Linked DNA regions of Homo sapiens: region 2 is linked to region 1. Evidence: fine-mapped expression QTL. A gene starts in region 1. The other region holds a variant in brackets. All regions are shown on one strand. Distances are between the middles of the regions.

Evidence for each region. PIP is the estimated chance that this variant, and not a neighbour inherited with it, causes the effect.
Region 2: its variant is the best candidate, but not a certain one, in a credible set for the expression of TCEANC in tibial artery (GTEx, PIP 0.55).

Annotation. Positions count from the first base shown.
Region 1 is chrX:13,652,072-13,654,887 of GRCh38, forward strand. It overlaps TCEANC (transcription elongation factor A N-terminal and central domain containing), which reads left to right and starts at 1,070. Exons shown (of 5, transcript NM_001297563.2): 1 at 1,070-1,117. It overlaps LOC107985657 (a long non-coding RNA gene), which reads right to left and starts at 1,368. Exons shown (of 1, transcript NR_171573.1): 1 at 426-1,368. RefSeq lists enhancers at 753-942, 1,203-1,292 and a silencer at 871-1,182.
Region 2 is chrX:13,678,676-13,681,491 of GRCh38, forward strand. No RefSeq gene overlaps it. Among named protein-coding and RNA genes, the nearest start is that of RAB9A, 9.0 kb to the right of the region's middle. The variant G/A (reference allele first, on the strand shown) is at 1,480.

The DNA of each region.
Region 1 (2,816 bases):
AGACGGGGTTTCACCGTGTTAGCCAGGATGGTCTCGATCTCCTGACCTCATGATCCGCCTGCCTCGACCTCCCAAAGTGCTGGGATTACAGGCATGAGCCACCACGCCCAGCCAAATAATTTTTTCTTTAAAAAGGTATTATATAATCCTTAAACATTTTAGCCCTATAATAGACAGCAAGAAAAAAGTAACCCCTGACAGCTCTGAGCTGCCCCGGCAGTCACAGCTGGGCCTTGGTGCTGCGTGGAACATAAATACTTCACAGAACACCATCAGACGTGGCCACTCTTTGACCAGATGGATCAAGACAAAAACAAGACTCCTTCGTAATCACGTGGGAATGCTGAAAAAACGTAAACATTGTCCAAACCACAAAAATGACCAAACATCCCCTATCCCAGTTAATGAGTCACTGGTCTTGTCTCCCCTCCTTTTAGGTAAGATTTATTATGATACTTAATCATACAATCGCCCTCCTTCCTGCCAGCACCCAGTCCAGAGTATTGGATTGGATACTCTGTTTCCCTGAACCTTTCCCCAAATTACCTTGGGGTAAGGCATCAGCAAAGGAGGCTGTCACATTCGTTCAACCATCACTGTGCTTTTACTGGCCCTTTGCAGGCAAAGAATGAGAATATGCACAGATGAGAAGTCCAGGATGCACAAGACCACTCAATTAACATTTACTACTTTCATATCAACTGATGCATGCTAGGATGCTAAAAACACTTTTTGAATTAATTACTGCGTTAAATAGATTCACATTTATGTCTACAGTTATGTGAACATCTAGCTGAGCACTGTCTTGACTGTCCTGAGTAGAAGCAGAAAAGATAAGTTGTAAAGTACATCAACAAACTTTGCTGCTAAAAAACGAAAGTGCAGTTTCTTTCTCTCGGGCCCGGGGCGGGGCCATGGCTCCTCCTCTAGGAAGCCGCGCGAGCGCAGTCCCACGGCAGCCATTTCCCTAGCGCGCATGCACTGGGTCCCAGGACCACGTGCGCCGGCCTGTGGGCTTGGATTGGCTGAGCCTTGACGTTGTCCCAGTCCCGGTGATCGGAAGTTCTCCGTGGGCACTGGGCGGCTGAAGGCTCCGGAACTGCGCCTGCGCTTTTCGGTGAGTCATGCTTCAGGTTTGCCAGGGCCTGTGTCCCGCAAAAAGGCGAGCCCTTATTCCCAGCGGAAGCCCACCCCGGCTCGCGGCAGCTTTCCGGTGCGCCCTGGGCGGCGTAGATCCGAAGGTGCTCGCACCCCCGCCCCTTCCTCTCCGACTGTCGAGGTCGCCAGAGTGGGCTGAACCCTCGGGACTGTCGCTGTTTGTGTGCTGGGTGCCGGGCCGTCATCCCAAGATGATTAGCGGCAGGCTTTGCATGTTGCTCGACCCCACCCACCGGAACTCGAACCCGGGCTAGACCGGGCAGTTGGGCTGGTCCCTTCCTCTCGCTGCACCTTTACTAGGGGTCACCATTAAGGGAAATGGTCCTAGTGCAGTGCTGAGTGGCTGTTCAGTAACCGCTACACCGCTGCCAACATTTGGCATCGTTTCTCTCCATAGAGGGCGGGGCTCCCTGTGAAGCTGGGGAGCTGTTAAGTGGGTTAGGGCTAGAAAGTTACAGTTTCTCTTTAGGCTTTAAAGAGATCTAAAGATCTGAACAGATCTAGGTTATTTTTGACTTGTTACAAACTTCTGGAAACATTGTTTCCAGACCTTTCCTCTCGTTCTTCTCAGGGTTTAGGCCATTTTTGTGCAGATGTGTGCACCTTGCTTACTATAATATTAGCTAATCTTTATAAGTTTTTATATGGATCCAATACCATATTTCGTGCCTACTTTTCCTGGCACTGTATACACTTTTTGGTATAGGTATGCACCTAAGCAAGCATTATCCATATTAGCATCAGTTCTAGAACCGTGGCGTCCCAATAATGATAGCCATTAGTTACATAAGGCTTGATCACTTGAAATGTGGCTAGTCCGAATTGAGATGTGCTGTAAGTGTAAGACACAGTGAATTTTCGAGAATTAGCATGAAAAAGAATGTAAAATATCTCAATTTGTTTATATTAATCACATGTTGAAATGACTATTCTGGATACACTGGGTTAAATAAAATGTATAATTAATTTCACCAATTTTTATTTTTTAACATGACTACTGGAAAATTTTAAATCATATTTGTGGTTTACATGTTATATATATGTTGCACAGCCCTGCTCTAGAAAAGGGTCAACAAACTATGGCCTGCAGCCAAATCCAGCCTGCCTGTTTTTGTAAACAAGTGTTACCAGAGCAAGATCATGCCTATCCATTTATGTTATTTTCTGTATCTGCTGTTGCTGCTACAATAGCAGCAGAGTTGAGTAGTCCATAGAGATTGTATGGCCTACAAAGCCTAGAATATATACCTTCTGATCTTTAACAGAAAAAGTGTGCTGACCCCCTGCTGTAGAACAATGCCTGGTTTGGTAGATATTTTTAAGCCTTTTAATTGTAGATTCACATCCTATTATTCACACTTACTGTGTGACAGCCATAGTTCAAAGCACTTTATCAAGACTTTCATTTAATTCTCATTAATCCTAGGATGTTGGATTTCTCCCATTTTGTAGATGAGGAAATTGAGGCACAGAATGGTCAAGAAACTTATCCAACTTGCTCAGCACCCCTCACTTCTGGGAACTGGACCTGCTTGACCTTCCTTATGCAAATGTTTTGACCCCTCAAACCCACTTCATTAGCCCACAGTGGGCACCATGGTTTTTTTGTTTGTTTGTTTGTTTGTTTTGTTTTTTTTAACAAGATTTATTTGAACTAG
Region 2 (2,816 bases), 27 kb after region 1:
GCTACCAATGACTTTCTTCACAGAATTGGAAAAAACCACTTTAAAGTTCATATGGAAACAAAAAAGAGCCTGCATTGCCAAGGCAATCCTAAGCCAAAAGAACAAAGCTGGAGGCATCACGCTACCTGACTTCAAACTATATTACAAGGCTACAGTGACCAAAACAGCATGGTACTGGTACCAAAACAGAGTTATAGACCAATGGAACAGGACAGAGCCCTCAGAAATAATACCACACATCTACAACCATCCGGTCTTTGACAAACCTGACAAAAACGAGAAATGGGGAAAGGATTCCCTATTTAATAAATGGTGCTGGGAAAACGGGCTAGCCATATGTAGAAACCTGAAACTGGATCCCTTCCTTACACCTTATACAAAATTAATTCAAGATGGATTAAAGGCTTAAATGTTAGACCTAAAACCATAAAAACCCTAGAAGAAAACCTAGGCAATACCATTCAGGACATAGGCAAGGACTTCATGTCTAAAACACCAAAAGCAATGGCAACAAAAGCCAAAATTGACAAATGGGATCTAATTAAACTAAAGAGCTTCTGCACAGCAAAAGAAACTACCATCAGAGTGAACAGGCAACCTACAGAATGGGAGAAAATTTTTCCAATCTACCCATCTGACAAAGGGCCAACATCCAGAATCTACAAAGAACTTAAACAAATTTACAAGAAAAAATCAAACAATCCCATCAAAAAGTGGGCAAAGGATATGAACAGACACTTCTCAAAAGAAGACATTTATGCAGCCAACAGACACATGACAAAATGTGTATCATCACTGGCCATCAGAGAAATGCAAATTAAAACCACAACGAGATACCATCTCACACCAGTTAGAATGGCGGTCATTAAAAAGTCAGGAAACCACAGGTACTGGAGAGGATGTGGAGAAATAGGAACACTTTTACACTGTTGGTAGGACTGTAAAGTAGTTCAACCATTGTGGAAGACAGTGTGGCAATTCCTCAAGGATCTAGAACTAGAAATACCATTAGACCCAGCCATCCCATTACTGGGTATATACCCACAGGAGTATAAATCATGCTGCTATAAAGACACATGCACATGTATATTTATTGCAGCACTATTCACAATAGCAAAGACTTGGAACCAACCCAAATGTCCATCAATGATAGACTAGATTAAGAAAATGTCGCACATATACACCATGGAATACTATGCAGCCATGAAAAAGGATGCGTTCATGTCCTTTGTAGGGACATGGATGAAGCTGGAAACCATCATTCTGAGCCAACTATCACAAGGACAGAAAACCAAACACCGCATGTTCTCACTCATAGGTGGGAATTGAACAATGAGAACACTTGGACAGAGGTTGGGGAACATCATACACCAGGGCCTGTCATGGGGTGGGGAGAGTGGGGAGCGATAGCATTAGGAGATATACCTAATGTAAATGAAGAGTTAATGGGTGCAGCACACCAACATGGCACATGTATAC[G/A]TATGTAACAAACCTGCGTGTTGTGCACATGTACCCTAGAACTTAAAGTATAATTTAAAAAAAAAAGCCCTGAGTCATAACAGTCTGTGTTAGATTGTATTCTTGTTCAAATATTTGATGACCCTCCCGGTGGGACCATTGTAGGATACCACATCACTCAGATCAGGCTTTTCCATGTGATTTGCAATGTCCCTCTCTTTAGGAAGATTATACATCACGATGTGTGACTTGCTTTGGTGAACATCATATGAGGGGAGATGATGAACATCACTTCTGTGTGGAAGCTTCAAGAGCCAGCAGGGGTTTTATTTTTGGTCTCTTTTCTCTCAACCAGTGATACCTGCAATATATCAGACAGAAGCTGATCCATTAGCTCAGGTTCGTCAGGTCCAGAGGGAAGATGACATGGACGGGAACCACAGCTGACCCATAATGGACATTAAGGTGAGAAATAAATCTTTGTTTTTATAAGCCACTGAGGTTTGTGGAGGTCATTTTTTACCACAGCGTAACTTAGCCTAAGCTGACAGATAAATAAGTTTTAAGAGAGATAGAATTCCATTTACCTGCATTTATATTATGAATCCCAGTAAGCTTAGACTAGATAATCTATAAGACATCTACTTCTTCTAACTTAGAAAAGGAATTTATTCAGGGAGATATTAAGTAGCTCTTAGAGGCAAGGCTGAAGTTTGGAGTGTGGGCAGGCACCAAAGGGAATCCACGAGGCTGGAGCTGCAGCCATGGCCGGAACGTGAATGACCTGATTAAGATGCTGTCACTGTTAGGTACTGGAAACTGCCACTGGCATTCTGGACACTAGCACCAATGGTGGTCACTAGATACTAGAGGGTACCACTACCTGTGCCAGAATGAACCCTGAACTAATGCAGCATCTCTTTGTTGCTTGCCCAAGACTCAGCTCTTCAAAGAGAGTATCTGATTGGCTAGTCTTGGGTCTCGTTTCTGTATTTTTGTTGTCAGGGTACTGGAAGAGCAAGTGTCTCTCCATTGGGACTTTTATAATGAAAAGACTCACAAGATAGTTGGTTTCTTAAGTGTCGGAAGGACTTTCAGATGCTAACCAAACCGCATCCCCTACAAAAGACAAATATCCCCCACAAACTTAGAAGATAAGCAAACTTGACTGGGCGCAGTGGCTCACTCTTATAATCCCAGCGCTTTGGGAGGCCGAGGTGGGCAGATCACCTGATGTCAGGAGTTCAAGACCAGCCTGGCCAACATGGTGAAACTCTGTCTCTACTAAAAATACAAAAATTAACCAGACGTGGTGGTGCACGCCTGTAATCCCAGCTACTCGGGAGGCTGAAGCGGGA